Linked DNA regions of Homo sapiens: all the other regions are linked to region 3. The links come from fine-mapping of genetic effects on gene expression. A gene starts in region 3. Each other region holds a variant in brackets. All regions are shown on one strand. Distances are from middle to middle.

Region 1 (8,106 bases), 22 kb after region 3:
TTTCCAAAGTATTTACCGAACACTTTCTCTGTTATCTAGGCACTGTTCTGTTTAATATAGAAGGTGCAATTATCCTCAGCAAACTCCTGTTGATCCTTAAAGACACCACATCCAGAAAGTCTCTCCAGGATCAACAAGCTGGATTAACACAGAGAACATGAGTGAAAACTATTTTTATTTTTTTATCCTACAAATATTTGTTGAGGACGTTATGTGTCAGGCCTGTAGTGTGAGAAGATAATTAAATGATGTCATCATGAAGGCAGCAGCTAAGAACTACCATTTATTATTATTATTATTATTATTATTATTATTATTATTATTTTCATTATTTGGAACCAAATCTCACTCTGTTGCCCAGGCTGGAGGGCAATGGCACGATCTCAGCTCACTGCAACCTCGGTCTCCTGGGTTCAAGCGATTCTCTGCCTTAGCTTCCCAAGTAGCTGGGACTACAGGCCTGCACCACTACGCCTGGATAATTTTTGTATTTTTAGTAGAGATGGGGTTTCACCATGTTGGCCAGGCTGGTCTTGAACTCCTGATCTCAGGTGATCCACCCGCCTCGGCCTCCCAAAGTGTTGGGATTAGAAGCGTGAGCCACTGCGCCCGGCCGAGAACTACCACTTATTATTAATGGTGATCATTAATTTTTTTTTTTTGAGACGGTGTCTTGCTTTTGTTGCCCAGGCTGGAGTGCAATGGCACGATCTCGGCTCACTGCAACCTCTGCCTCCCGGGTTCAAGCGATTCTCCTGCCTCAGCCTCCCGAGTATCTGGGACTACAGCTGTGTGCCACCAAGCCCAGCTAATTTTTTGTATTTTTAGTAGTGATGGAGTTTCATCCTGTTAGCCAGGATGATCTGGATCCTCTGACCTCGTGATCTGCCTGCCTCGGCCTCCCAAAGTGCTGGGATTACAAGTGTGAACCTCACCCAGCCTATCTTCAGAACTTCTATCAGATTATTTTGAAGGTGTGTGAACATATTTTTATTTGTTTGTTAAACCTTGAAGGTGGATTGGATTTGAGAAATAGCTACTAGTTGTTCAAGACCAAGTTGGGTGAAAGATAATGGGTCAGAAATTATAATCTGGTAGTCCTCAATTTTCTTTGATTTGCTTATAATGTTTTTTGAGATGGAGTCTCACTCTGTTGCCCAGGCTGGAGTGCAGTGGTGTGATCTCGGCTCACTGCAACCTCTGCCTCCTGGGTTCAAGCAATTCTCCTGCCACAGCCTCCAGAGTAGCTGGAATTACAGGCACCCGCCACCATGCCTGGCTAATTTTTTTGTATTTTTCATAGAGACAGGGTTTCACCATGTTGGCCAGGCTGGTCTCGAACTCCTGAACTCAGGTGATCCTCCCGCCTCAGCCTCCCAAAGTTTTGGGATTACAGGCGTGAGCCACCACGCCCAGCAGTGACTGTTAATTTTGTGTACTGATTTTACGTGTCATCTTGACTGGACTAAGGGATATTAGCTGGTAGAACATTATTTCTGGGTGTGCCTTTGAGGGTGTTTCTGGAAGAGTTAACGTTTGAATCAGTAGACTGAGAGCAAAGAAGATCCACCTTCATCTATGTGAGTGGGCAGCATCCAGTCCATTGAGGGCTTGAATAAAAAGGCAGAGGAAGGGTGAATTCTCTCTGTCCTTGAGCTGGGACATCTATTTTCTCCTCCCCTTGGACATCGGAGCTCCTGGTTCTTGAACCGGTTTCCCTCCCCAACCCCACTCTCAGGCCTTCCACTGGGGACTAAATTACGCTACCGGCTTTCCTGGTTCTCAGCTTGCAGACAGTTTATCATTGGACTTCTTGGCCTTTGTAATCGCATGAGCCAACGCCCGTAATAAATTTCCTCTTACGTTATCTATATATATCCTATTGGTTCTGTTTCTCTGGAGAATCCTGACAAATACAACAATAATGCTTATCATTTAAATATTTATATTATCATAATTATTGTGTTTATAACAATATTTATTAAGCACTTGCTATATGACAGATATTGTATCAGTGTGGTACATGCATTTTGTCTTTAACTCCTCACAACCGCTCAACGAGGTAGGTCCCTTGATTATCCTCATTTTATTTATTTATTTATTTTTAATAGAGAAGAGGTCTCACTATGTTGTCCAGGCTGGTCTTGAACTCCTGGGCTCAAGCGATCCTCCCACCTTGGCCTCCCAAAGTGCTGGGATTACAGGCGTGAGCCACTGTGCTGGGCCTATCCTCATTTTATTTACAAGAAGACTGAAGCTTAGAGGTGTGAAGTGATTTCCCCAAGGACACACACCTGTTTTCCCACAGTTTCTAGCTCTGGATAGGTCTCAGTAACATACATTTTCCCCACTTTCCACTACAGCCACAGCATAGGGTTGTGCATTTTAGGATCTGCACAAAAAGGGAGGACAGAGGAGTGGGGCTGAGACCCAGCCTGGAGATGTTTGCCGCAATATTTTATTTTGCTGGTTCTAGCTTTCTTAGAGAACTCTTAGGATCTTCTGTTTGACTTGAGCCCTGGGCTGCTCCAGTTTACACTCCTCAGATCTCTAAATTTATTTATTTATTTATTTATTTTTTGAGACCAGCTCTGACTGTTGCCCAGGCTGGGGTGCAGTGGCGCCATCTCGACTCAGTGCAACCTCTGCCTCGTGGGTTCAAACCTCAGCTCCTGCCTCAGCCTCCTGAGCAGCTGGGATTATAGATGTGCACCACCACGCCCGGCTAATTTTTGTATTTTTAGTAGAGACGGGGTTTCACCCTGTTGGCCAGGCTGATCTCGAACTCCAGGCCTCATGTGATCCACCTGCCTCTGCCTCCCAAAGTGTTGGGATTACCGGCGTGAGCCACGACGCCCGGCCAAATCTCTAATTTCTAACCTTCCAATCTTCCAGTCGTTTCTTCCCACCTCCGATAGGAAGGAGAGGTGGGCTGCAGGGCAGGAAGAAAAGGCCCAGCTCCCTTCCCCACCAGTTGCTCCTTTAGACCGACTCCAGGTGAGCAGTAAATCAGGCTGGCTGGTGCTCTGGCGGCACCTAGTGGTCCTCTGCGGCAGCACACCATGATGACAGCTTGACAAGACGAATTAAAAGCCCCTTTCTCCAGGAGCTGCTAGCGAGATGAAACGGGCATAGAGGCAGATAAAGCACTGTGGGAACCCAGCGAGGGAGCAGTCGTGGTTTCTGGGGAGTTAGAACTTAGAATTTGGATTCAGCTAGACTTGGATCCTGGTTCTACCACATACTGACTGTGACCTTGGGCAAGTCATTTCATCTCTTTAAGCCTCAGTTTCCTCATTTGTGAGATGGGGAGAATAGTGTCTCTTGATGACCATGAAGTACTTAGCACAGTGCCCAGAACGCTTTGGATATTTGTTTTCGGCAGAAGGGAACTTCGTTTTGTTTGTTTGAGATGTAGTTTCGCTCTTTCGCCCAGGCTGGAGTGCAGTGTCGCAATGTCTGCTCACTGCAACCTCTGCCTTCCGGTTTCAAGCGATTCTTCTGCCTCAGCCTCCCAAGTAGCTGGGAATACAGGCGCCCGCCACCACACCCGGTTAATTGGCAGAAGGAACTTTGTAAGAAAGGCAGGGAGTGGGATGAATGTTCAGAAAACAGAGTAGGTGACAGATGATCCCCCTTCCCTGCTAGAGAAGAGCAAACACAGCTGGTCAGTCCCGTGGAGCAAGTTGGGGCAGGGGCTGAGTCTCTTAATTACAGCACAGTGAGACGACCTAGAACCCCTTCCTGGAAACAGCTGCCCATTCTGGGCTGAGCCAGAGTGCTAAACAGGTTTGCTCACCTGGCCTCTGGCTGCCCTCTTATGCCTGGCAGAAAATACCAACCATCAGCTTCCCACAGGTGCTTCTCTCTCCAGCTAGAACAGAGCAACTCCAAACTCCTCAGAATTGCCAATCCTGACCCTGGTTTCATCTGACCTCCCACTTGTTCCATCTGATTCCTTCCCAGTGCTGGTCCAACACTGATAAGCTTTAGTGTCCGCTTACATGAACTACACTCTCCTGGCTTTCCTCCTACCTCTCCAGCTGTTCTTTCTCAGGCCCCTTGCAGATTTCTTTTCTCTGCACACCCTTACTTAGCACTCTACAAGGTCCTGTCCTATCTTCTTATTCTTTATACTCTTCCTGGGCCATCTTATCCATCGGGTTGACTTTAACTGCTGCCTATATGTTTTCCTGAGTCTCAGACCTGCTTATCCAACTGCTTCTCAGATGTTCCACAGGCACCACCAA[A/G]CTGACATGTCCCAAATGAAATTATCTTCTTGCCCACAAACCTGTTCCTCTTCCTGTGTGGCCTACACAGCCAGTGGTCCCACCCTCTGCCCTATTGCATAAGCCAAAACTATGGATGTCATCCTGGAGAAGAGACTTCCCTCTCTCCTCCCCGAGAAATATTATCGCCTTGTCCCAGTGACTATACCTCATAGGTGTTTAATCCATCCACCTCTCTCCATCCCCACTGCACCTACCTTATTCAGCATACCATCCTCTTTTGCTTGGGGGTATTGCAACTGCCTCTTATTTTAACTCCTTGCTTCCAGTTTTGCTCCATTGTTTTTCCTCTGTGTTCCTTTCTGGAGGCTCAAGGAGATAACTCATTGCCCAGCCTTTCCCACCTTCTAGAGGCTTCCCACATTTCTTGGTTTCCCCTTCCTCCATCTTCAAAACCAACAAAGTTACATCTTACTGACCATACTATAGTAAAATCTCCCTGTGCTTCTCTCTTCTGTCTTCCCCTTCCACTTTTTTTTTTTTTTTTGATGGAGTTTCACTCTTGTTGCCCAGGCTGAAGTACAATGGTGTGATCTCGCCTCACTGCAACCTCCGCCTCCCAGGTTCAAGTGATTCCCCTGCCTCAGCCTCCTGAGTAGCTGGGATTACAGGTGCTTGCCACCACGTCTGGATAATTTTGTATTTTTAGTAGAGACGGGGTTTCACCGTGTTGGCCAAGCTGGTCTTGAACTCCTGACCTCAAGTGATCTGCCTGCGTCAGCCTCCCAAAGTGCTGGGACTACAGGCATGAGCCACCACGCCCGGCCCCCTTTCCACTTTTAAGGACCTTGTGATTATATTGGGCCTATTAGGTAATGTAGGATAATCTCCCTGTCTCATAATCCTTAATTTAATCAATTCTTCAAAGTCCCTTTTTGCCATGTAATGTAACAGATTCACAGGTTCTGGAGGCATCTTTGGTAGATCATTATTCTGCCTACCACAGACCATTCTCTGGCCCCAGTATTCATACCTGTCTCACGAACAAAATGCATTCACCTTATTCCAAGGTCCCTAAAAATCTCAGCCCATTAAAGTATCAACTCAAAGTTCAAAGTCTCATTTAAATCTCATTAGCTCAAGAGTTTCAGATTTATCATGGATATTATCTAAATTAGGTTTTGGATGAGACTCAGCATAATCTATCCTGGGGCAAAGTTTCTCTCCACCTGTGGACGTGTGAAACTAGAAAATAAGCTTCTGCTTCCAAAATACGATACTGGGTCTAGCATAGGATAACACTAATAGACATTCCCATGTAAAAAGAGAGAAAGGAAGAAATAGAGGAGTCACTAGTCCCAAGCAATTTCAAAATTAAGTTAGACAAACTCCATTAGGTTTCAAAGCCTGGAAATAATACTTTGCAGCTCAAAGCTCTGCCCTCTGGGATCACAGCTCTGTCCTCTTAGTCATTCTTCCTTTTTCATGAAAGGTTCAGCACATGGCTGCAGCTGGGTGGTTTTATCAACTTGTTTCCTGCCTGTAGAATTTGGGGGATCTTATAGCCTTCTTTCATTTCATACCCTCTCTATCCTGTACAGTCCAAGCTCAAGTGTTTCTGCTGGTATAAAATTCTCAAGAACCCCGTGGATCTCTCATGTATGTCACTCCATTAGACAAAATGCTCCTTTGCAGATCTTCGCTTGATAAGCCCGTTTCTATTTCTGTCTTCTGTTGAGGTAGCTGAGGGGATATATGAGTCTCACACTTAATCTCTTCAAAAAACCTCTTATGTGACAGAATACTCTGAACTTTTTTTTTTTTTTGACAGTGTCTTGCTCTATTGCCCAGGCTGGAATTCAGTGGTGCAACCACAGTTCACTGCAGCCTTGACTCTCCAGGCTCAAACAATCCTCCCACCTCAGTCTCCCAAATAGCTGAGACTACAGGCAAGCACCACCTACCCAGCTAATTTTTGTTGTTGTTGTTGTTGTTGTTGTTGTTATCTGTAGAAATGAGGTCTCCCTATGTTTCCTCAAGCTGACCTTGAGCTCCTGGGCTCCAGCGATCCTCCCTTCTCAACCTCCTAAAGTGCTGGGATTACAGGCCTGATACTCTGACCTTTTGATCTTTCTGAGGTATTAGCAAAAGGTTGTCCAGCCACGTTCTTGGCTTTTTCTCTAAAGCACACTTTCCTGACAGTGAATTTCATCATTTTAACGTCTTTTGCATCTGAATAGGCTGAGAATTCCCCCAATCATCAAGTTCTGTTTCATTTTTTGTTAAACATTTCTCTCAAATTATCTGTTTCCTCTCACATTTTACTGTAAGCAGCAAGAAGAAACCAGACCACACCCTTCAACACTGCCTGGAAATCTCCTTAGCTAACTACCCAATTTCATTGTTTTTTTGTTGTTGTTGTTTTCTTTTTGAGACAGGGCCCCACTCTGTCACCCAGGTTGGAGTGCAGTGGCACGATCTCGGCTCACTGCAACCTCCACCTCTGGGGTTCAAGCAACTCTCCTGCCTTAGCCTCTCTAGTAGCTGGAACTACAGGTTCCTGCCACCACGCCTAGCTAATTTTGTATTTTTAGTAGAGATGGGGTTTCTCCATGTTGGCCAGGCTAGTCTTGAGCTCCTGACCTCAGGTGATCCACCCGCCTCAGCCTCCCAAAGTGCTGGGATTACAGGCATGAGCCACCTTGCCCGGCCTCAAGTTCATTGTTTATAAATTCTGTGTTTCATATAACTTCAAGGAACTGGATAAGCTTTTTGTCACTATGTACCAAGGATCCTCTTTCCTCCAGTTTCCCCTAACATATTCCCCATTTCTTTCTCAGCCGTCACCCATAGCACCTTTAACAGCCATATTTCTTCCAAGTCCGTTCATGTTCTCTAAATTGGTTGATATTTTCTTGACTCTGCTCATTACTGATTCCAGAGTCCTCACTGTCCAAGCTGTTAGCATTCACATTTCTCCCAGCAGTCTGATCAAGGCCATACAGGCTTTTCCCATCATGCTCCTCAGTGTTTTTCCTGCCTCCTCCCAAAGTTCAGTTCCAAAACCACTTCTACATGTTTAGGTATTTGTTACAGCAGTAACATAATCTGTATTCGTTTTCTGTTACTCCTGTAAGAAATTACCACAAATGTAGTGGCTTAAAACAATACAAATTTCTGGCCAGGAATGGTGGCTCACACCTGTAATCCCGGCACTTTGGGAGGCCAAGGCAGGTGGATCACAAGGTCAAGAGATCGAGACCATCCTGGCCAACATGTTGAAACCTCGTCTCTACTAAATATACAAAAATTAGCTGGGCATGGTGGTGGGTGCCTGTAATCCCAGCTACTTGGGAGGCTGAAGCAGGAGAATCGCTTGAACCCGGGAGGCGGAGGTTGCAGTGAGCCGAGATCACGCCACTGCACTCCAGCCTGGTAATAGAGCGAGACTCCGTCTCAAAAAAAAACAAAAAACAAAACAAAAAAACCCCAACCAAACAAACAAACAAAAAAAACACAATACAAATTTGTTACTTCTAGCTCAGTAGGTAAGAAGTCCGAATGACACGGGGCTAAAATCAAGACGTGAGCAGGGCTGCACCCCTTTCCTGAGGCTCTAGGGAAGAGTCTATTTCCTTTCCTTTTCTCTTTTCTAGAGGCTTTCTGCATTCCTTGGCTTGTGGCTCCCTTCCTCCATCTTCAAAGTTAGCAATGTGACATCTCCTTGACCACTCTTCCACAGTAAAATCTCCTTTGCCTCTCTCTTCTGTCCCTACCTTCCACTTTAAAGGACCTTTGTGATTACATTGGGCCCATCTAGTTAATCCAGGATAAACACCTCATCTCAAAATTCTTAACAACACCTGCAAAATCTCCT
Region 2 (8,106 bases), 48 kb after region 3:
CTAGGTTTTGGATGACATTTCTAGACACACCCTGGGTCAGAAGGGAACCCACTGCCTTGAAGGGAAGAACCCAGTCCTGGCAGGATTCTTCACTTGTTCACTCAAGAGCACTTGGGCCCCGAATGATCAGCAGCAGTACCCAGGCAGGACTCACCATGGGCCTTGGGTGAGACTCAGAGATGTGCTGGCTTAATGTGTGACCCAGCACATTCCCAGCTGTGGTGGCTGCAGGAATGGACTCCTTCTGCTTGAAAAAGGAGAAGGAAGAGTAAAGGGAACTTTGTCCTGCAGCTTAGGTACCAGATTGACCAAGTGGGCCCTTGAGGTCCCCAATTCCAGACCTTAGCTCTTAGATGGCATTTCTGGACCTTCCCTGGGCCAGAGGGGAGCCCACTGCCCTGAAGGGAGAGTCCCACACCTCGCAGCATTCACCACAAGCTGACCAAAGAGCCCTTAGGCTTTGAATGAACATCAGCAGAAGCCAGGGAGTACTTTCCGTGGGCCTGGGGCACTGGTGGCCACAGGGAGAGACTCCTCTGCTTGAGCAAAGGGAAAGGAAGAGGGGGAAGGACTTTGTCTTGTGGCTTGGGTGCCAGCTCAGCTGCTATAGAATAGAGCAACAGGTTGATTCCTAAGGCTTCTGACTCCCGGCTTGATTGTGCTGTCATTTTTGACAAAGTGTGCATGGGAGATAAACTGGTTAGGATTCCAATAGGAAGCCTGTGGCCAATGCAAAAGAGGCCAGTGAGGAGCGTTTAAAGAAGGGACCATTTTGTAAAGTGTGGGAAGGGTGAAAGAAAATCAACCAAGGGCATGATGTATCTTGGGGCGAGCAAGTGCAGATGGCTGTTGCCCTCAAAGCCTGAAGAGGCCAGGGGAGAGAGTATGACCAGAATGTGATGTGAGCCCTCGCTGTAGGAGAGGGCCACCATCACAGTCAAGAGGGCCACTGTCGCAGACACTTTGACTGTCACTGGAGGGGGGCAGTAGCTCTGCCAGTAGGGAGAAAGCAGAGAAAATAAATAACTCGACTTCTCTCTCCTCTTGCCCTCTGATTTCCCACTGTTCTTCCCATTGGTTGAACACAACCAAAAGCTGGTGTGCAGAGAAGCCAGGTTGATGCCATCTATCAAAGTTGTCTCTTAGACCTCAGAGCCAGTTGAAGGGCTGAGAGAGGATGTGGAAGCCAATGGAACACAGCCAGCGCAGGAGGCAAGATTTTGAAATCTATGGTATGTGAAACTGTCTTTATTCAACACTGCCTCTAGAATAGTAGTTTGGGTGGTACAGAATTCTGGGTTGGCAACTCTTTTTTTTCTCAGAATTTTGGAGGCAAAGTTTCATTGTCTCCTGGCTTCCAGTGCTACTGTTGAGAACTCCATGCTATTCTCATTCCTGATTCTTTTTCATGTGATTTGTTTTTCCTCTCTGGAAACTTCAGATCTTGCCTTTTCCCCCAGTGTTCTGCCATTTCACATTGATATGCTCTGGTGTGGGGCAATTTCCTATCATTACACTACAGAGTTCTTGGAGTAGGCCTTGGTCAGTTATACTTGCTCTGTCCCTCGTAAGCACCAAATCCAGAAAATAGAGCATTCAACACAGGAAAAAGAGGAAGGCTATTCCCAGGATGATAGTGAAGGGGAATTCCAGGGTGATGATTACATAGCAGCAGGCCTCCTCCAGCTTGGAGCAGCAGGGCAGAAGCTTCAGGATGGACAGCGCCAAGAATAATGAAATTTATAGCTTAGCTGATGTGTTAGAACTCACTAAGAGGAAATTCTCTTCTGTCAGAGTATTAGGAGATGAATTAATCATAGGTTCATAGAAAATTAAGCACTCCAAAGTGGAGCAATTATTGACTCCAGGAAAAACAAAAAGTTTAACCAGGAAAAAAATGCAATCAATGAATACAAAGCACAACTGTCAATAATATTAAGTCATAATATTATAAATATTGAGCATTAATTTAACAAAATATTGTCATTTAACTATACTAGGAAAATGTGGGAAAGGAAGTCTGGGGGAGTATATATAAAGAAATCTAAATCTTCATCTTCCATAGCAGGAAGTGAATAAGCAAAGCTGGGAAGGTAAATCATGGTGATAGAAACATGTTATTTGGGCAATACATAAATTGTAGAAGAAACAACTATAAGAGTTGAAAATGGTTGTCTCAGAGGAGTAGGGACCAGTGTGGGCAGAGATGGGGCAGAGGATTACTGTTTGTCATTATAAGCCTTGTATAATTACTTGACTTTTAAAACTATGTGCATGTTTTTACTTTGATTTAAAACTTAAAAAAAAAAATCTAATATCTAGGAAGGCAGAGCAAGATGGCCAAAAATAGAAGACCTCACCAATTGTCCTCCCCACAGGAACACCAAATTGAACAACTATCCACACAAAAAATCACCTTCATATGAACCAAAAATACAGTGAGTAATCACAGTACCTGGTTTTAACTTCATATTACAGAAAGAGACACTGAAGAGAGTACAAAAGACAGTCTTGAATTGCTGATGCCACTAACCCCTTCCCCACCAGCAGCCGTGTGGATCAGAGAGAGAACTGGTGTGCTTGGGGGAAGGAGAGTGCAGTGATTGTGGGACTTTACATTAGAACTCAGTGCTGCCTTGTCACAGTGGAAAGCAACCCTGGGCAGAACTCAGCTGGTGCCCCCAGAGGCAGCATTTAGACCAGCTGTAGCCAGAGGGGAATCACGAAGCTCACTAAGCTTAGTCTCACCAAGCTCATTTGCATGTGACAAATAACACTGAGCTCATAGTAAAACAGGGAGCATAATTATCCAGCTTTCTAAATGAACAGGTCATTCTATGAGTGTTATCTGGTATAGGTAAAGTGACTGGCCAGTGAATCAGAAACTGATTAACATATGGCTTAAGAGATTTTGATCTCTTAGCTATAAGATACACTAATGAGAGTTTCCTGTGGCAATAGTCCAAAAATGTTCACCATACCTCTTTCTTGGTAGTAATCTGGGCATTTTATTACTGTGGCTTCTCTAGTATAGTGGTTTTTATTTTGTCCTTATTTATGTGAGTTGGGGTTTCAAAATACTCTGATTTAAAGAAAAAAAAGAGGGCAAGCAAGGTGGCTCACACCTGTAATCCCAGCACTTTGAGAGGCTGAGTGGAGAGGATTGTTTGAGGCCAGGAGTTTGAGACAGCCTGGGCAACATAGCCAGATCCTATTTCTACAAACAGAAAATAATTTATTAAAGAAAAATAAGATGGGCCAGGCACAGTGATTCATGCCTGTAATCCCAGCACTTTGGGAGGCCAAGGCAGGAGGATCGCTTGATTCCAGGAGCTCAGGACCAACCTGGGCAACATGGTGAAACCCTGTCTCTACAAAAAATACACAAAATTAGCTGGACATGGTGATGTACGCCTGTAGTCCCAGCTACTCAGGAGGCTGAGGTGGGAGGACTGCTTGAGCCTGGGAAGTCGAGGTTGCAGTGAGCTATGTTCGAGCCTCTGCACTCCAGCCTGGATGACAAAGTGAGACCCTGTCTCCAAAAAAAAAAAAAATGGCTCAAGGCTGTGGATATCCTCCACAGGGACATCAAGGTGCTGAAAAGCTCAATAAGAATAATAATCGGTCAAACAGCTGTCAAAAAGTATAATGTCTTTTTAGCCTCAGAGTCTCTGATCAAGCAGATCCCATGAATCCTTGGCCCAGGCCTAAATAAGGTGGGTAAGTTCCCTCCCCTGCTGACACACAACAAAAACATGGTGGCCAAAGTGGATGAGGTGAAGTCCACAACCCAGTTTCAGATGAAGAAGGTGCTATGTCTGGCTGTGGCTGTTGGCCATGTGAAGATGACAGACGATGAGCTTGTACATAACATTCACCTGGCTGTCAACTTCCTAGTGTCATTACTCAAGAAAAATTGCCAAGACATTCAAGCTTTATATACTGAGAGCACCGTGGGCAAGCCCACGTGCCTGTATTAAGCCACATTCTAGGCTCATGCCTGTAACCTCAGCACTTTGGGAGGCCAAGGTGTGAGGATCATTTTAGGCTATGAATTCAAGACCATCCTGAGCAACAAAGCAAGACTCCATCTCTATTTCAAATAATTTTTAAAAGGCACATTCTAATAAATTCTACTGCCACCAAAGCAAAACAAAACAAAATAAAAACAATAAAGAGAAATTATCTGGAAGCTGAGTATGAAATGTGGTATCAGGATTCTTCAATTCATTCCAATTTTCTGAAATCCATTAGATACAGTGCAACCAAACTATGCTCAGTGGCCACTGGGACAGATAGAAAATTCTATAACTGGATACATTCGGGGAGGAGCCAAGATGGCCGAATAGGAACAGCTCCGGTCTACAGCTCCCAGCGTGACCGACGCAGAAGACCGGTGATTTCTGCATTTCCATCTGAGACCTGCAGCTGAGGGTCCTGTCTGTTAGAAGGAAAACTAACAAACAGAAAGGACATCCACACCAAAAACCCATCTGTACATCAC[C/T]ATCATCACAGACCAAAAGTAGATAAAACCACAAAGATGGGGAAAAAACAGAACAGAAAAACTGGAAGCTCCAAAAATCAGAGCGCCTCTCCTCCTCCAAAGGAACGCAGCTCCTCACCAGCAACAGAACAAAGCTGGATGGAGAATGACTTTGACGAGCTGAGAGAAGAAGGCTTCAGACGATCAAATTACTCTGAGCTACGGGAGGACATTCAAACCAAAGGCAAAGAAGTTGAAAACTTTGAAAAAAATTTAGAAGAATGTATAACTAGAATAACCAATACAGAGAAGTGCTTAAAGGAGCTGATGGAGCTGAAAACCAAGGCTCGAGAACTACGTGAAGAATGCAGAAGCCTCAGGAGCCGATGCGATCAACTGGAAGAAAGGGTGTCAGCAATGGAAGATGAAATGAATGAAATGAAGCGAGAAGGGAAGTTTAGAGAAAGAAGAGTAAAAAGAAATGAGCAAAGCCTCCAAGAAATATGGGACTATGTGAAAAGACCAAATCTACATCTGATTGGTGTACCTGAAAGTGATGGGGAGAATGGAACCAAGTTGGAAAACACTCTGCAGGATATTATCCAGGAGAACTTCCCCAATTTAGCAAGGCAGGCCAACGTTCAGATTCAGGAAATACAGAGAACGCCACAAAGATACTCCTCGAGAAGAGCAACTCCAAGACACATAATTGTCAGATTCACCAAAGTTGAAATGAAGGAAAAAATGTTAAGGGCAGCCAGAGAGAAAGGTCGGGTTACCCTCAAAGGGAAGCCCATCAGACTAACAGCGGATCTCTCAGCAGAAACCCTACAAGCCAGAAGAGAGTGGGGGCCAATATTCAACATTCTTAAAGAAAAGAATTTTCAACCCAGAATTTCATATCCAGCCAAGCTAAGCTTCATAAGTGAAGGAGAAATAAAATACTTTACAGACAAGCAAATGCTGAGAGATTTTGTCACCACCAGACCTGCCCTAAAAGAGCTCCTGAAGGAAGCGCTAAACATGGAAAGGAACAACCCGTACCAGCCACTGCAAAATCATGCCAAAATGTAAAGACCATCGAGACTAGGAAGAAACTGCATCAACTAACGAGCAAAATCACCAGCTAACATCATAATGACAGGATCAAATTCACACATAACAATATTAACTTTAAATGTAAATGGACTAAATGCTCCAATTAAAAGACACAGACTGGCAAATTGGATAAAGAGTCAAGACCCATCAGTGTGCTGTATTCAGGAAACCCATCTCACGTGCAGAGACACACATAGGCTCAAAATAAAAGGATGGAGGAAGATCTACCAAGCAAATGGAAAACAAAAAAAGGCAGGGGTTGCAATCCTAGTCTCTGATAAAACAGACTTTAAACCAACAAAGATCAAAAGAGACAAAGAAGGCCATTACATAATGGTAAAGGGATCAATTCAACAAGAAGAGCTAACTATCCTAAATATATATGCACCCAATACAGGAGCACCCAGATTCATAAAGCAAGTCCTGAGTGACCTACAAAGAGACTTAGACTCCCACACAATAATAATGGGAGACTTTAACACCCCACTGTCAACATTAGACAGATCAACGAGACAGAAAGTCAACAAGGATACCCAGGAATTGAACTCAGCTCTGCACCAAGCGGACCTAATAGACATCTACAGAACTCTCCACCCCAAATCAACAGAATATACATTTTTTTCAGCACCACACCACACCTATTCCAAAATTGACCACATACTTGGAAGTAAAGCTCTCCTCAGCAAATGTAAAAGAACAGAAATTATAACAAACTATCTCTCAGACCACAGTGCAATCAAACTAGAACTCAGGATTAAGAATCTCACTCAAAGCCGCTCAACTACATGGAAACTGAACAACCTGCTCCTGAATGACTACTGGGTACATAACGAAATGAAGGCAGAAATAAAGATGTTCTTTGAAACCAACGAGAACAAAGACACAACATACCAGAATCTCTGGGATGCATTCAAAGCAGTGTGTAGAGGGAAATTTTTAGCACTAAATGCCCACAAGAGAAAGCAGGAAAGATCCAAAATTGACACCCTAACATCACAATTAAAAGAACTAGAAAGCAAGAGCAAACACATTCAAAAGCTAGCAGAAGGCAAGAAATAACTAAAATCAGAGCAGAACTGAAGAAAATAGAGACACAAAAAACCCTTCAAAAAATCAGTGAATCCAGGAGCTGGTTTTTTGAAAGGATCAACAAAATTGATAGACCGCTAGCAAGACTAATAAAGAAAAAAAGAGAGAAGAATCAAATAGACACAATAAAAAATGATAAAGGGGATAGCACCACCGATCCCACAGAAATACAAACTACCATCAGAGAATACTACAAACACCTCTACGCAAATAAACTAGAAAATCTAGAAGAAATGGATAAATTCCTCGACACATACACTCTCCCAAGACTAAACCAGGAAGAAGTTGAATCTCTTAATAGACCAATAACAGGAGCTGAAATTGTGGCAATAATCAATAGCTTACCAACCAAAAAGAGTCCAGGACTAGATGGATTCACAGCCGAATTCTACCAGAGGTACAAGGAGGAACTGGTACCATTCCTTCTGAAACTATTCCAATCAATAGAAAAAGAGGGAATCCTCCCTAACTCATTTTATGAGGCCAGCATCATTCTGATACCAAAGCCGGGCAGAGACACAACAAAAAAAGAGAATTTTAGACCAATATCCTTGATGAACATTGATGCAAAAATCCTCAATAAAATACTGGCAAACCGAATCCAGCAGCACATCAAAAAGCTTATCCACCATGATCAAGTGGGCTTCATCCCTGGGATGCAAGGCTGGTTCAATATACGCAAATCAATAAATGTAATCCAGCATATAAACAGAACCAAAGACAAAAACCACATGATTATCTCAATAGATGCAGAAAAAGCCTTTGACAAAATTCAACAACCCTTCATGCTAAAAACTCTCAATAAATTAGGTATTGATGGGACGTATTTCAAAATAATAAGAGCTATCTATGACAAACCCATAGCCAATATCATACTGAATGGGCAAAAACTGGAAGCATTCCCTTTGAAAACTGGCACAAGACAGGGATGCCCTCTCTCACCACTCCTATTCAACATAGTGTTGGAAGTTCTGGCCAGGGCAATTAGGCAGGAGAAGGAAATAAAGGGTATTCAATTAGGAAAAGAGGAAGTCAAATTGTCCCTGTTTGCAGATGACATGATTGTATATCTAGAAAACCCCATTGTCTCAGCCCAAAATCTCCTTAAGCTGATAAGCAACTTCAGCAAAGTCTCAGGATACAAAATCAATGTACAAAAATCACAAGCATTCTTATACACCAACAACAGACAAACAGAGAGCCAAATCATGAGTGAACTCCCATTCACAATTGCTTCAAAGAGAATAAAATACCTAGGAATCCAACTTACAAGGGATGTGAAGGACCTCTTCAAGGAGAACTACAAACCACTGCTCAAGGAAATAAAAGAGGATACAAACAAATGGAAGAACATTCCATGCTCATGGGTAGGAAGAATCAATATTGTGAAAATGGCCATACTGCCCAAGGTAATTTACAGATTCAATGCCATCCCC
Region 3 (8,106 bases):
GTTTCTCATCTGGGTGCCTCTCTGGGTGGATGTGAGAACTGATGCAACATAGAAGGCAATATGCCTTGTAATCGTTGCAGGGTGTGGATGAGTTTGAAGGGGTCCTGGTGACTGTCCCAGCCCTGGTCACACCTCATGAGCCAGCAGGGCAGAGGCAAGTCATGGGGGTTTCTCCTTTCTCCCATCTTTCAGTGACTGACCCAGTGTAACCCCCATCAGATGTTGTCCTCATGCCCCTGGGGCTGGCTGTGTTCAAGAGCCTGTGACCTTGGGGGCCCCCTGGGAGCTCTGTGGTATCAGCTAAATGATGTTTCTCTCCTGAGTCATGCCTGGGGCTGTGGGTAGGGGTCAGGGGAAGAGCGGAGGAAAGGACAGGGCACACAAGGACAGCCCCACCCAACATATTCAGCCTGATCCTTGGAGGCCAGAAATGTGAGACTAAGTCCTGACTGCTGAGGGGTAGCAGGAGGAACCTGCACCTCCCAGAAAGCAGACCCTCTCTCTGGACCCCGGTTGCCTGCAAATCAATGACCCTGGGTGAGAGTGAGGTTCCAGGAAGGTCACAAGTCATATCAAGGTGAGGGGGGCTCACAGCTGGAGAATCTCCATCCTGCTGCCCATCTCTGAACAGATCAGTGAAGATGCCAGAGCCAGGCCCTGGAGGTCAATTGGCAGAGCCCTACCCTGCCCCACCCGACACTCAGCTACTCACATCAATCCCGGGCTTCCCGTCTGGCCCATCTGGCCCAGCTTTGCCAGGCTCGCCCTTGGGTCCCTTGAAAACAGAGATGGAACAAACATGAGCCAGAGGAGGGCAAGAGCAGGAAGGGTCAAAGGCCAAAGAGGATAAAGCACTCACCGGAGGGCCAGCTTTTCCAGGGGGCCCATTGTCACCCTGCAAGATACAAGTTGGTGAGACAGCACACTACGGCTCACACTACCCCAAGTGGGCACACACAGGCCCTGGCAGGCCGCTCCCAAAGGCTCTCCTCACTCTCCTCTCTTCTGTCCAGGTCCCCTAAGCCTTGCAATCTTTGGGAAAAGAGCCCCCTTTTCCTCAAAAATAAAAACCAAAAACAAATCACAGGAGCATGAGAATAACCCTGGCCGGGCTGGAGAGGGTGACAGCAACATGCAAGAAGGTACAGACATGCTGATGTCATGAGGTGCCAGCTGTGAGACCCACTACCAGGGCTGGGGGCTCCAAGCTGATGCCTCTTGGATTTGGGCACGTGTGGGAGGAAGGTTGGGGCTTTTAGAGAAACGTGAAGGGGGATGAGCGAGTTGGGCAGCAGCTCTATTCCAGACTGCAGGGCAGGAGAACGGGAAGCTGAGCCAGTGGCAAGGACCAAGGGGGACTGCAAGGGGGAAATTCAGTGTTCCCAAGGAGGGAAGGACCTCCTTCCAGTGCCAAAGGACCCTTGGTGGTGGGCAGGCAGGGCCGGTAGAGTGCGATTCAGCCCCAGAGAGGCCTCCAGGCATTTCAGAGCCCTCAGCAGCCAGGGCCTGGCCGGGGGCCCAGCATCCTGTGTTTGGGGGGTGGGGGCACCAGGTTGAATAGAAGTCTGTCCAGACTGGTAAACATCAAGCGGCCCTCCTGCGGGAGCTTTCAGAATGAGGTATTTAACCCTCACCCTGCAGGGAACAAGCCCAGCTGATTCTAAATCGGGGAGAGAAAACCGAAGGGAAGAGACAGGAGTCTGGCCCAAGCTGGTCGGTGGTCTGGCCAAGGCTCCCAAGCGAACCTGAAGAAGCGTCCAGATGTGCCAGAGGCAGGGTGAGGGGTTGAGTCGCCTCCTACCCCACAAGGAGGGGAAAGGAGAGGAGGGGGATGAGGCCTCGCTGTGAGCTGCGGCCGGCGGACTGAACAGCAGCTCCTTGTCTGTCGGCGGCTATAACGGGCTCCGCATGTCAGGGCTGGTTTGAGGTTTTTGCAGAACAAACGGCGTCCTTGTGGTGCGGGCCGGCGCCGCCTATTGGCGACGAGGGGCACTACATCTCCGGGCACCCCGAAGTCCCCACCCCCACCACAGCGCTCACAAAGTTCTCCTTTGTCTGCCGCCTCCCTCCCGCCCTGGTCTCAGGTTAGAGACTTACGTCGATGCCGTCGGATCCAGGCACTCCCGGCGGTCCCGGGGGACCCGGGGGGCCCCGCTCTCCCGGTGGACCTCTCTGAAAAACACACACGGGGTGGGGCAGTCCTCAGACAGTGCAGGAAGCTGGGCGTCCCCGGGGCTGCAAGCGACCCTGGGAGCGGGGTCCTAGGGGCGCAGCTCTTCCGCGAACTCCCACGTATTGAGAATCTTCTGTATAGCAGGCACTGTGTGCCATTACATGCATTCATTATCTTACAGAATACTCAGAACCGGGAGGCGGGCGCTATTACGGGCCCCAGTTTGCAGTCGAAGAAACTGGCTCAGAACGTGAAGGGTCCATGGTCACTGAGAGTGGGCGGCGGCGCCAGGAGTCCGCCCTGGATCTGCCCGACTCCTTCCACTGTGCCAGTTTGCCCTTGCGCGGTCGCGGTGGGGAATAGATGGAGACGTGGACAGCTCAAATAAATCACAGATGGAATGTAAGGTTGTGCCTAGCAGGCTGCCGGCCCTCAGTGAGCGGTGGCTCGGGTTGTTGTTCTTACGTGAACGACAGGCAGAGACAGCGCCTCCTCCTCTCCCCATGGTGCGGGAAAACCCGACGGGAAAGTGGGGGAGGCGCAGAGAAAGGAGGTGTAGGGAGGTGAAGCGGGTACTATCTTCCCACTCGGAGCGCCCCTTCGGCAGCACAGCTGCCCGGTCCTCCCTCTGCTAAGCCCTGACTGCTGCAGGGGAGCAGGAGGAGCCGGCACCTCCCAGAAAGCAGACCCTCTCTCTGGATCCCGTTTGCCTGCAATTCAATGCCCCTGGGTGGGTGTGAGGTTTCAGGGAGGTCACAAGTCATATCAAGATGAGGCGAGCTCACAGCTGGAGAGTCTCCATCCTGCTGCCCATCTCTGAACAGATCAGAGATCTTAAAAGGCGGCCCTTTTAAGAGGCCAGCTCGGACCCAGGCAGGGGTCCCGGTGCCCACGACCTCCCCAGGCCGCGAAGTGCCAGGCTGGCGCCCCGCAGGCGAGCTCGAAACCACACCCAGCACCCGACCGGGCCCAGTCTCTGCCCTACCCGCGCGCCCGCAGCCCCCGGCGGCCCTCGGAAGGGAGACGTGGGTAGGCGGGCAGGGCCGAGAGGCCGCCTCGGGGCGACAGCGGCGTCTGGTTGGAGCCGGCGCCCCCTGGGAGGCGGCGGGGGCGGAGGCTGCGCAGCGGGTGAATGAGCACCATTGTATGCCCCGCCACCTGGGCTCCCCGGGCTGCCAGGACCGGGCGCCAGCTCCTGCCCCACGCTGCCTGTCCCGGGCCGGGCCGCGCGTCTGGGGACGGGTCCCGTTTGACTCTCCGGCTCAGCCACCTCCATTCACGGTGCCGCGATGGGCACCATGTATGCACCCACCGAGGGGACCTGCCCGCGGCGCTGTCCTCAGGTGGCCTCTCGGGCTAGGGGTGTCAGTAGGCGCGGGACACAGGCAGAGCTCCTCCATCCCGGACTCCAGACCCCGCACCCTGGACCCTGGCAGCGGAGGGGCTGCGAAACTTACAATCTGCGCCAGAGCGAGCACTACCACCTGGAGGAGAACAAGGAGGCTGCGGGGGGAGGCCGTAGCGGCGGCCATGGCTGGCGGCGAGACCAAGGGGGACGGGTGCGTGTCCGCGCACGCACCGACGGCAGAGTCTCCCGGCGCTCCTCCAGCGCTGGCTGTTCGCGGGCAGGGTGGGCTGGGGCTCCTGAATATGCGGGGGGCGGGGCGGGGGCCGGCGTGAGCTGTCACCTGAGAGGACCGGCGGGGTTGCCGGGAGGGAGGCCGGCGCCAGGCATCCAGCTCCGCCCCGCTCGGTCCAGCCTCCTGCGCCCACCCTCTGTCCTCGAGGGGCGACCGGGGTGCGGGTCGGAGATGATGGTCCAGTTTCTTTGTGAGAAGGCATAAGGCCGTCTGAGGTTCCCCTCGGGACCTTCAGGCCCCAGCACCTTCCCCCTGACGCACAGCCTGTGCCCCATCACTTACCCTACGTCCTCTCCAGGGCCCAGGCCGAGAGCACCTCGGGCTCTGCAGATCTTGCTGCAGGCTCTCCCCAGCTCCCGCCCACCTTGCTCCCCTCTCCTCTGGCTCCTTCCTCTCCAAGCACAAACAAACAGGCCTTTTCCATATTAATATGCCACAGTCCTTCCTGGATCAGCCGTCTCATGAATACTCCATCGGCCTCTTCCAGCTCTTTAGTGGAGCTGTGTGCACCTCCCCCACCCCCGAACTTCCTCACCTCGCTTTCACCTCCCTACTCTGTCCCAACAAGCAAATCTGTCTCCTGGAGGTCTGCAGTGAAGCCCAACCCTTCTTCGGTCCTCCAGGCAGGAAGCTGTTGGCATCTTCACCTGCCCTTGAAGTCTTCCCCATCCAAGCTCCTGCCATCCAGCTCCCCTTTTTCTATTGCCTTTAATTCTCTGCAGCTGCCTTAAGCACTGGTGTGTTTAGGATTGGGCCTTCTCACTCCATGTTCATAGAAACAACTACCACTTTATTCACCAGAGTTTCCGAACCCCGCTGTCCAGCATAGCCCGACTCCAGAGAGCCTTCCCTTCCCTCCCACTCACTTAGGCAATATTGGTAAAATGCTTTGGAATCTGACTTTTTCACAATTATAGATATGACCACAGGCACCCCAAACTCTATGAAGTCTCATTTTCCTCATCTGTAAAATGGGGATACTAATAGTCCATATATATATATATATATATTTTTTTTTTAAGACAGAGTCTTAAAAGGCTCTGGAGTGCAGTGGCACGATGTCAGCTAACTGCAACCTCGCCTCGCGGGTTCAAATGATTCCCCTGCCTCAGCCTCTCGAGTAGCTGGAATTACAGGCATGAGCCACAATGCCTGGCTAATTTTTATATTTTTAGTAGAGATGGGGTTTCGCCATGTTGGCCAGACTGCTCTTGAACTCCTGACTTCAGGTGATCTGCCTGCCTCAGCCTCCCAAAGTGTTGGGATTACAGGCATGAGCCACCGTGCCCAGCAAATTGTCCTTATCTTAAAGGGTTTTTGTGGAAATTGAATGAGATGACTCATGCGAGGCATTTAACCTCGAACCAGCACATAGTAGGTGCTTGATACATTTTAGCTTTCCTTATGATTTATGGATGACTGTTTTACTAGGTTGGCATCCAATGTGGGGAAGCTGGCCACAGGCAGATCAGCTAAAATGATGAACCTAGTTGAAGCTAGAAAAGTCCAACTCCATTGGGCAGGTTAGCAAAGGGCTCTGGATTTTGAAAGGTTGTCCTGGAGCTGAGTTTGGGAGAAAGAGCTTGAGAGAATGTAATTGCTCTGCCTAACAGAGTGAAGAAGAATTTGAAGTTTGTTGGAAGATGAGAGCAAGAGGAGGAGGATGTAAGAGAGGGATGGTGGGCATTGCTTGGGGTGGGTGGGGTAAACCTATAAAGGATTTTTAGAACTGGGATGTCCAAATTCAATTTTAAGTTGTTTGTTTCACATCACTTATCTCTCCATCTTTTGTGGGCTAACCACAAGAAAGGCCTTGTGTGAGTAAGTTTTCTTTTTGTGTGTGGAAATTATGGAAAGAGGATGAGTTTCACAGTCTGGACAGCACACATTGATGTATTAATTACCTGTTGCACCATAACAAATCACCCTAACATTCAGCAGCTTAAAATGACAATTTCTTTGGATTAGGAATTTGAGAGTGACTCTGCTGGTTCGGTCTGGCCTGGGGTCTGTTATAAGGTCATAGTCAGATGGTGGCTGGGCCTGATGTCACCTAGAAGGCTTCTTCACTCACATGTCTGATGTCAGTACTGGGAAGCCTTCAACCGCTGGGGCCGGAACAGCTGGAGTTGCTTGGACAGTTCTCTCCTTTATCTCTTTGTGGGCTTTCCATGAAGTTTCTCCAACATGGCAGCTTCAAGGTAGCTGAACATCCTCTATAGCAGCTCAGAGGGAGTAGGAGAGCACCAGACTGAAGAGAATTGCCACTCAGGACCCGTCCTTGGAAGTCATGCAGTGGCACCTTCACCACATTCTTACTGTTGAGGCAATTGCAAAGGTCTGCCCATGATCAAGGGGAGGGAACAGAGACCCCACCTCAAGGATGAATGTTAATGTCACATTTTTTAATTTTTTTTTTGAGATGGAGTCTTGCCCTGTCACCCAGGCTGGAGTGCAGTGGCGCAATCTCAGCTCACTGCAACCTCCGCCTCCTGGATTCAAACGATTCTCCTGCCCCAACCTCTGGAGTAGCTGGGATTACAGGCGTACGCCACCACTCCCGGCTAATTTTTGTCTTTTTAGTAGAGATGAGGTTTCATCATGTTGGTCAGGCTGGTCTCGAACTCCTGACCTCATGATCCGCCCGCCTCGTGATCTGCCCGCTTTGTCTTCCCAAAGTGCTGGGATTACAGGCATGAGCCACCGCGCCCAGCCAGTGTCACATTTTAAGAAGAGAATAAGGGATAAAATTTATTTATTTATGTCTTTCTTTCTTTCTTACTTTTGAGACAAGGTCTCCCTCTGTCACCTAGGCTGAAGTGCAATGGAGGAATCACCACTCACTGTAGCCTCAAGTTCCTGGGCTCCTGATCCTCCCACTTCAGCCTCCTGAGTAGCTGGGACTACAGGCATGCACCGCTGCACCCAGCTAATTTTTTATTTTATTTTATTTTACTTTGAGACAGAGTCTTGCTCTGTTGCCCAGGCTGGAGTGCAGTGGTGTGATCTCGGCTCACTGCAACCTCCATCTCCCGGGTTCAAGCAATTCTCTTACCTCAGCCTCCCGAGTAGCTGGGATTACAGGCGCCTGCCACCATGCCTGGCTAATTTTTGTATTTTTAGTAGAGACAGGGTTTCACCACATTGGCCAGGCTGGTCTCCAACTCCTGACCTCAAGTGATCTGCCCACCTCGGCCTCCCAAAGTGCTAGGATTACAGGCGTGAGCGACTGCACCCAGCCATGCACCCAGCTAATTTTTTATATTTTGTAGACACAGGGTCTTGTCATGTTTCCCAGGTTGTCTTGAACTCCTGGGCTCAAACAATCCTTCTGCCTTGGACTCCCAAAGTGCTGGGATTACAGGTGTGGGCCACTGCACCCAGCCTGGGGATGCAATTTTTATTATTGATGCAACCATCTTTGGAAAATACATCCTGCCACACTTGGGGTTATAAACTGAACCAATCCAGTGGTAGCTGAAGCTTAAAGCTGGAGCCAATCAAGATAAATTTTAGGCCAGGCAAGGTGGCTCACGCCTGTAATCCCAGCACTTTAGGAGGCCGAGGCAGGCAGATCATCTGAGGTCGGGAGTTTGAGACCAGCCTGACTAATATGGAGAAACCCCATCTCTACTAAAAATACAAAATTAGCCGGGCATGGTGGTGCATGCCTGTAATCCCAGCTACTCAGGAAGGCTGAGGCAGGAGAATAGCTTGAACCTGGGAGGTGGAGGTAGCGGTGAGCTGAAAGCACGCCACTGCACTCCAGCCTGGGCAACAAGAGTGAAACTCTGTCTAAAAAAAAAAAAAAAAAAAATTATATATATATATATATATATATATATATATATATATATATATAAATTTTAGGGAAGGCTTTGGACCACAAGACATGGACTGGAGGTTCCAGCCAATTGCATATGGGTGTTTGTTTGTTTTTGGAAACAGGCTGGAGTGCAGTGGCACAATCTTAGCTCACTGCAGCCTTGACCTCCAAGGCTCAAGTGATCCTCCCACTTCAGCCTCCTCAGTAGGTACTTCTTGCATAGGACTCTTAAAGCACAGGGAGACCCTGAATAAGTGGAGAGTCATATATCTACATTTCTGTATAAGAAAACTCCATGTTGGCCAGGTGTGGTGGCTCATACCTGTAATCTCAGTACTCTTGAAAGCTCAGGCAGGAGAATCACTTGAGGCTAGGAGTTCAAGACCAGCTGGGGCAACACAGTGAGACCCCTTTCTCTACAAAAAAAAAAAAAAAAATTAGCAGGGTGTAGTGGTGTCTCCCAGCTA
Region 4 (8,106 bases), 87 kb after region 3:
GAAGAGAATGTAAAAGTGGAGAGAGAGCTATTAGGAGGTTATTGCAGTGGTCCGAAAGAGTCTGGTGGCTTTAGATTACAGAAATAGTGATACAGATGGAGAGAAGAGATACTGATTTGACAGATATTTTTGTCTTGGTGATGTGGGGGCTGAAGGAGAGAGGTTTCATGATGCATAATTTTCTGACTGACGCAATGGAATGGATGGAGGTGTAGTTGACTAAGATGAAGAAAAAAGGAAGAGATTTTGTAGCAAGAGATTGAGAGCTTAGTTTGGAATATGCTATTCAGAAAATGTGCACCAATTTACATATTTACCTTTGTGTATGAGACTACATGGAAGGTTTATATTTAGAGGTGTGATCTGTACAGATTTGTGTTTTAGAAAGATTATTCTGGTGGTGGGATTCTGGAGACTAATTGCTTGTTAGTCTGTGAGCTTTTTGAATTGAGGAATCTCATCCTTATTTTCTCTGCCTTTGTATCCCCAGTACTTAGCAGGCAAATTGCTTGGCACATAGGTACACAATAAATAATGTTAAGAGAACCAATGCTGGTTGGGCGCGGTGGCTCACACCTGTAATCCCAGCACTCTGGGAGGCCGAGAAGGGCGGATCACTAGGTCAGGAGATCGAGACCATCCTGGCTACCAAGGTGAAACCCCGTCTCTACTAAAAATACAAAAACAAAATTAGCCGGGCGTGATCGCGGGCGCCTGTAGTCTCAGCTACTCGGGAGGCTGAGGCAGGAGAATGGCGTGAACTCGGGAGGCGGAACTTGCAGTGAGCCGAGATCGCGCCACTGCACTCCAGCCTGGGTGACAGAGCGAGATTCCGTCTCAAAACAAACAAACACACACAAAAAAGAACGAATGCTTATAGGTGAGACATGAGGTCTAGGTAGAAATGGATAGATTCTGGAAAAGTTTCCAAGATAGATTCCACAGGATTTGGATGGAAGATGGGAAAGTTCTCTCCCTTCGCGTAGCCTGCCCGTTGAACTTTTTGACAGGTCCGTTATGCCAGCAGGTCTAAATATAGGTAGCCATCAATTTATCAATGTTTTTTCCTCCTCAATATTTATTTGTTTGGAACTCCATAGATTAGAACTCAATGATATAATTATTATAATATTAGTAGTAGCTTGAAGTCCTCCATCACGCTAGTTCCCCTTTTCTGTCTGCTGAGTTGTCAATCCCAGAGCCCCTCTAATCCTGGCAGCTTTGGTGGTGGGGGAAGTTTCAGCAGCAAGAGGAATTTGCAGCAGTAGTTACTCCGTATGTAGAAGCTGTCCAGATGTTGAATATAAGTTGGATATTACGTATATGCTTTTCATTTTACAAATGGAGACATAAGCCCTAGAGAAACTTGTCAAAATACATGCAACAGGTCCGTGTAAACCCAGATTTTTCCGATACTGAACTGGTACTTAGGACAGTTGATTTCTTGACTGATCAACCAAATCCATCTCCATCTACTTTTTTCATTTTCCCTGATCCCTTATTGCAGAGTGATTCTATGTTAGTTTTAGTATTGCTTGATGCTGCCCACGCCTGCTCTTAGGCTCCTGTTGAATATGTGCACTTATGTGTGACCTTGTTCTTGTGTTGTGCCGATCACTACCAGTTTACATCACTTGTCTATCCTCTTTGCTTTCAAAATTGTTTGGCATATTGCCTCTCAGCATTTCTTTTCATTTTAAATTTCAAAATGGCATCTTTTATATTTTTTTCCTTGATTGCCATGACCAATGTGTATTAAACAATTGGTTTATCTCTTTTTATTGATACATAATAGATGTACATGTTTTCAGGGTACAAGTGATATTTTGATACATTCACATAATGTGTAATAACCAAATCATGATAATGCTATATCCGTCACCTTAGACATTTATCTTTTCTTTATGCTGGGAATATTTGAATTATTCTCTTCTACCTATTTTGAGATATATGGTAGATTATTATTTACTATAGTCACTGTACTGATTTATTGAACACTAGATCTTATTTCTTCTAACTGTATTTTTGTATTTTTGTTTTTTTTTTGAGACAAGGTCTCGCTGTCATCTAGGCTGGAGTGCAGTGGTGTGATCTCGGCTCATTGCAACCTCTGACTCCTGGATTCAAGCAATTCTCCTGCCTCAGCCTCCCCAGTAGCTGGGATTACAGGCACGTGCCACCATGCCTGGCTAATTTTTTGTATTTTTAGTAGAGATGGGGTTTCACCGTGTTGGCCAGGCTGACTAACTGTATTTTTGTACCCATTAATCAACCTCATTTCTTCCTCCATCCGCCTACCCTTCCTGGCTTCTAGAACACCGATTTACTCTCTCTTCATGAGATCCACTATTTTTTAACTCACTAACATTTGCAGCAACATGGATGGAATTGGAGGTCATTATGTTAAGTGAAACAATTGGTTTCACTTGCATTTTTGCAAGTTTACCAGATTAAAGTAGGCTGGCCTTATAGCAGCAATACCAGGTACTGTGGAATCCAAGTACCCACCACTTAGGTTGACAGCCTTGGGCCTTCTTTCTTTGCCTGTGTAGTGGGGGCATATGCAAGCACAAGGGCAGGGTGGGGGTGTGTAGCAGAGAAAGGGAACAGGTGAGGGTTTAAAAAGTGCATTTTCAAGAAATATTTTAAGAGAAATAAAGGAAGCTGCTTAAATTTTCATGTTGCCTAGAAGACTTTGAAATTGGGTCTAGGGTAAATTTCTTCTCTCTGTATTCAGTTCATTTTGGTTCTGATATTTTAGGACCAGAACTCATATTCCTTTTTAAAAAAGAAGCACTCTGGCTGAGCGCGGTGGCTCACGCCTGTAATCCCAGGCCTTTGAGAGGCCAAGGCGGGTACATCACCAGAGGTCTGGAGTTTGAGACCAGCCTGGCCAACAAGGCGAAACCCCGTCTCTACTAAAATACAAAAATTAGTGGGGTGTGGTAGCACGCGCCTATAGTCCCAGCTACTCGGGAAGCTGAGGCACGAGAGTTGCTTGCACCTAGGAGACGGAGGTTGCAGTGAGCCAAAATCACGCCGCTGCACTCCAGCCTGGACGACAGAGCGAGACTCTGTCTCAAAAAAATAAAATAAAAAGAAGCACTCCGTGGTGTTGCATAGAGTGTTGGTATATATTACATATATGAATGAGTTAACTGGCCCTTATCAGGAAGATGGATGGGAAGTGGGTTCTGGAAACCTTATTCTATACCACATCCTTATATATAGTCCTCAGTTATTGTCCCTCTGTGTTCTAGGGCACTGTGAGGTGAATGCTATTGTACACGTTTTATAGATGAGGAAACTAAGGCTCAGGAAATGTAAGTATCTCTCAGAAGGTCACACAGGTAATCACTGAAGGAGCTGTGCTCAAACCTAAGTCCTACAACTGGCAGAGTGTGGTTGCTCCCACCTGTAATCCCAGTGCTTTGGGAGGCTGAGGCGAGAGGATTCCTTGAGGCCAGGAGTTCACAACCAGCCTAAGCAACATAGGGAGACCTTGTCTTTAAAAAAATTAAAAAATTAGCTGGGCATGGTGTTGCATGCCTGTAGTCCCAGCTACATGGGAGGCTGAGGTGGGAGAATCGCTTGAGGCGAGGAGTTTGAGGTTACAGTGAACCATGATCTTGCCTCTGCATTCCAGCCTGGGCAACAGAGTGAGAGACCCTGTCTGTAAAGAATAAAATGAAATAAAAGTAACTACACCATTTCCCCATGTTTTCAGCCATATAAGTAACATTTGTCTCTTTTATTTTTCTTTTCTCTAATTTCAGAATATTTTATGGAACATGTAGTTATTCACTAATAAATCTAGTGGCTCAAAACTAAAAGAGATTGAGTATCTGGGATATAACTATCACTATATTCACTGGGAAAAGGTTTCACAAGGGATGTCAGGTAGGGATTTGGTGGGGAGAAGAGGCTGTTCTTTGGCTTTTCATGAAAATACAGTTGCCTGTATTTCTGTACTGAGGCCTTGTCAGTGGCTTCAGAGTCACCCCAAGGCTCCAAGTCTTAGCCTTGCATTCCTCAGAAGCAAAAAGACTTTAAGTACGCTGGAGTGGGAGCTGTGACAGTGGCTTAGATGATTGGGAATTGCCTTTTCCCATCTTAAGGCCAGGAAGCAAACAGTGTAACATTTCACAGCTGACTTTTAATTTTTAATGAATGTGTTTGGCTTCTGACTTTGTTAGCAAACAAATACATCTTAACTTGTCTTATGAGTTCTAGACTCTGGAATCTAGAGCAAAGGAAAAGTGCTTTAAGAAACATGAAATATTAACTTGGTGCCATTTTAAATCTTATATAACTTAGATCTTATTGGAGTTCCTTTATGAAAACTGTAACCTAAAATGGATATACCACATGTTAAGAAACCCCATTTACATCAGTTTAGGGTTTTCATTTTGTGTTTGACGTGACACTCTCCCACATGAAACAAGTGTG[C/T]GAATCATTTTTGTGTTTATTAGATACATGGCGGACCAACTATGTAAATCCATCTAGGAATGTGAAGGGACTAAATATCTTTTTAGAAGGTAAATCGGAGCTTGTGATAGCAATAAGGTATTGGGATAAAATTTCAGGCGGAGAGCACCACCTGGTGGTAATAAGGAGAATGTGAGCCTTCTGTTGCAGTATTTGCGATAGTAAATAAGTGATATCTTTGTCAAAAAATTACATTCTTATTTGTAATAATCATGAATTCAAATTTCTAAAACTAATTTTCTGCCACACAATTCTAGCATTCCTTCATTAAAACTGCTGTCAAAACCTTCAGGCTGGCCAGGCACAATGGCTCACACCTGTAATCCCAGCACTTCGGGAGGCCAAAGTGGGAGAATTGTTTGAGGACAGGAGTTCAAGACCAGCCTGGGCAACATAGTGAGACCTAGTCTCTACAGTAAATAAAAATATTAGCCAGGCAGGGTGGCACACGCCTATAGTCCCAGCTACTCCAGAGGCTGAGGCAGGAGGATCGCTTGAGCCCAGGAAGACGAGGCTGCAGTGAGCTATGATCGTGCCACAGCACTCCCTGTCCGGGTGACAGCGAGACTGCCTCTAAAAATAAAAATTAAAAAATTAAAAACCTGCTAGCTAACCAAATAATTGTCTGTGTCCTAAAGAACTGAAGTCTTGTGCTCGTTGTCGTTCCAAGCGTAGGCCCTGTTTATCTCTGTAGAAAATCAGTGTCTTTTCACCTCTTTATTGCATCCTCTAATTTTTATATCACACTTATTTTATGTGGTAAATTTCTGCCAAGTGGGATAATGGAGAAGGAAGTATTTCTGATTTTTTAGTAAGTTTTTGGCAGGTTTCATATAAGTCATTTTTCTTTCCTGGGTAAAAATTATGAAGAGGAGTATGATAATTTTTCAGAGTGATTATTAGGATGAGTAACACTGGCAGGGGATGGGAGATTCTGTAACAGTTTTGAATTAAAATTCATATTTGAGATTTCTTTTTTGTTGCTATAAGCATCTTTATTATTTGGCAATCTTGAAACAAGATACTTCAGTAGTTGAGTAAAGTAGGAACATCAGCCTAAGGGGAAAAGATCCTATTAAGTTAATGCGAATGCATATTTTATAGGCCTGGGGTTGGGGGGAAGATAAACACAGTTTCAATTACAGGTTGAGCCATGGACAAGCATGCCATATCTATCTTTTTTCCTGGTAGGAAAACCGAATACAGGCCACCACTAAAAAGTGGTGAATACAGGCCCATCACCACTAAAACGTCTCTTGGGAGAGGACTGTTTATGTAAGGTGCTCGGCCAAATAGAATATGACATGGCTTTGCACTCCTGGGATTTTTCTTAATATAAGTAACAGTCTTATAACATCTGCGTTTCAACACTCATATTAGCAGACACTGTAAAAAAATTGTACCATGCACAAATGCCCACTTATTATATAATTCTTTTTATATTAAATGCCCAGAATTGGCAATCCATAGAGATAAAAAGTAGATTCATAGTTGCCAGGGGCTGGGAGGAAGAGCTGGGAGAAAATGGGTAGTGCCTGCTAATGGGTTTGTGATTTCTTTTGGACTAATGAAAATGTTCTGGAATTAGATAGTAGTAATCATTGCACAACTGTGTGAATATATTAAAAACCACTGTATTGTACACTTAAATTTAAACTAAAGAAAAGCTGACACATGGAGGAATGAGCAGAGTCAATAAACAGGTGGTTATGGTAAAAATTATTTCACTTATGTTCTAGCAGAAATGTCTGATAATCTAATATTGTAGTTTAGGCCTTGAATGTTGTAATTTGTACTTTATTGCCCTGTTCCTGACTTTCACAGGGCCGCGATGGGCCTCTTGGAACATTGGTGTGTTCATCTGCATTCGATGTGCTGGAATCCACAGGAATCTGGGGGTGCACATATCCAGGGTAAAGTCAGTTAACCTCGACCAGTGGACTCAAGAACAGATTCAGGTACTTAGCCCAAGAGTGAGTCAGCTGCTTCCATATATCTATGTAAAAGGAATTCCAGATGAATTTCAGTCAAACCTGGCACAAAGGTGAAGATAAAGGAAAATTTAGTTGTTAAACACTTAACATCAGATTCTTGTACCCTAACAGAAATTTTTATTCTTTCTATTTAAGATACAAGTTATTCTACCTATATTTTACCTCCTTAAAAACAGAAATAGTCTACGGTCTAGGATTCCATGGGCCCACGAAAGTATTAAGAGGGATCTTTGGGTGATTTTCTAAGACTCTTAGCATTTGCAGGTCTAAAATTTATAGTTTCAAATATTCACTTTTGGTCGGGCACGGTGGCTCATGCCTGTAATCCCAGCACTTTGTAAGGCCGAGGTGGGTGGATCTCTTGAGTCTAGGAGTTCAAGACCAGCCTGGGCAACAGAGTGAGACACCTGTCTCTACAAAATAAAGAATTAAAAAATTAGCTGGGCCTGGTGGTACGTACCTGTAATCCCAGCAGTTTGGGAAGCTGAGGTGGGAGGATTGCTTGAGCCCAGAAGTTGAAGCTGCGGTTAGTCATGATCATGCCATTGCACTCTAGCCTGAGCAATAGAGTGAGACCCTGTCTCAAAAAAATAAATAAATAAAAATTCACTTTTTAAAAAAACCTCCAAATCATAGACTTATGGGAAAATTTTATTACTAAAATGCATACATGAATCTTTTTTTTAAGACAGAGAAAATATTTTAATGGTACATAATATTAAAATGTATCCATTTTTGTAAACTCATCATTTCTGATATTTTTAGACACATACAAATGTGGAATTAGATAACATTTAAAATTTCAAAAATTTTAAATAAATTTAAACATAATTAACCTTAAAAGTATATTAAATAGGACAATGTGTATATTAGATTTATTGTTATCATCTTTAAAAAGCTGTAACAGCTGGAATGCATACATGAATCTTGCATGCTGTTAGCTTGGTGGGCTTGGAGTGAGACTCCTAAGTTAATGAGTCTGGCTGGCCTAAGAGCTGTACCTTGATATAGCTTCATTATTTTTTATTCTCTTCCTACATTGAAACGCTTTAATTTCAATTTTTTCTTTCTTGGGAGTAAAAGGGAAGCCCCCCGCCCCCCAAATCCAGTTGCTAAAGTTGGTAATGGAAATCAGAGGTTACGCTTAACCAGAAAATGGCTTTAGAAATTGCTTTAGATTGTATTTATAGATGTATTAAAGGTCTAAAAAGGTGAGTTACATTTTTCAGTTACACTTCACTCTGTTTTATGAAGGAAATTATATGCCATGGAGATAGTCGGGAATTTGGAGATTTAAAAAGCTCTTGGGATTTATCCCTCACAAGTGTTAAGGAGTCTACTTAAAAGCCTAATGGGAAACACATTTATTGGAATTGATTAATAGTATAAACTCAGAATGATAACACTGATCATTGCCTGCCAAGTAGACATTTTAATTGGTAGCTGTGTATCTAAGAGTTTCAAATGAGATCTTGATTTATTACTGAATTGAATGTATCTTGGTACACAAATATTTCAGTAAAAGGAACCTATGGAGTGGGGGAAAGACAGCTTGGGGCAAATGATTGGGAAATCCTAGTAAGGTAGAGGGAATCATGAATTGGAAATCAGAATACACAAGTTT

Alleles and levels. Positions count from the first base shown, and alleles are read on the strand shown. Sizes are in standard deviations (SD) of each study's normalised expression. Not every link is listed here.
With allele T in place of C in region 4, the expression in activated CD8 T cells of the gene that starts at base 3,794 in region 3 is higher (large effect, 1.3 SD a copy in Schmiedel 2018).

The links.
Region 1: its variant is fine-mapped to the expression of COL9A2 in whole blood (TOPMed, PIP above 0.99).
Region 2: its variant is fine-mapped to the expression of COL9A2 in whole blood (TOPMed, PIP above 0.99).
Region 4: its variant is fine-mapped to the expression of COL9A2 in activated CD8 T cells (Schmiedel 2018, PIP 0.95).

The regions. Positions count from the first base shown.
Region 1 is chr1:40,335,852-40,343,957 of GRCh38, forward strand. No RefSeq gene overlaps it. Among named protein-coding and RNA genes, the nearest start is that of COL9A2, 23 kb to the left of the region's middle. The variant A/G (reference allele first, on the strand shown) is at 4,251.
Region 2 is chr1:40,361,205-40,369,310 of GRCh38, forward strand. It overlaps a transcript of SMAP2 not described here. Among named protein-coding and RNA genes, the nearest start is that of SMAP2, 8.5 kb to the right of the region's middle. The variant C/T (reference allele first, on the strand shown) is at 4,505.
Region 3 is chr1:40,313,493-40,321,598 of GRCh38, forward strand. COL9A2 (collagen type IX alpha 2 chain) reads right to left here and starts at 3,794. Exons shown (of 32, transcript NM_001852.4): 1 at 3,631-3,794; 2 at 2,098-2,172; 3 at 860-895; 4 at 713-775. The coding sequence starts at 3,705. RefSeq lists enhancers at 1,609-1,868, 2,652-3,288, 3,289-3,925 and silencers at 2,039-2,098, 2,109-2,208, 2,969-3,478.
Region 4 is chr1:40,400,424-40,408,529 of GRCh38, forward strand. It overlaps SMAP2 (small ArfGAP2), which reads left to right. Exons shown (of 10, transcript NM_022733.3): 2 at 6,313-6,446. Among named protein-coding and RNA genes, the nearest start is that of SMAP2, 31 kb to the left of the region's middle. The variant C/T (reference allele first, on the strand shown) is at 4,450.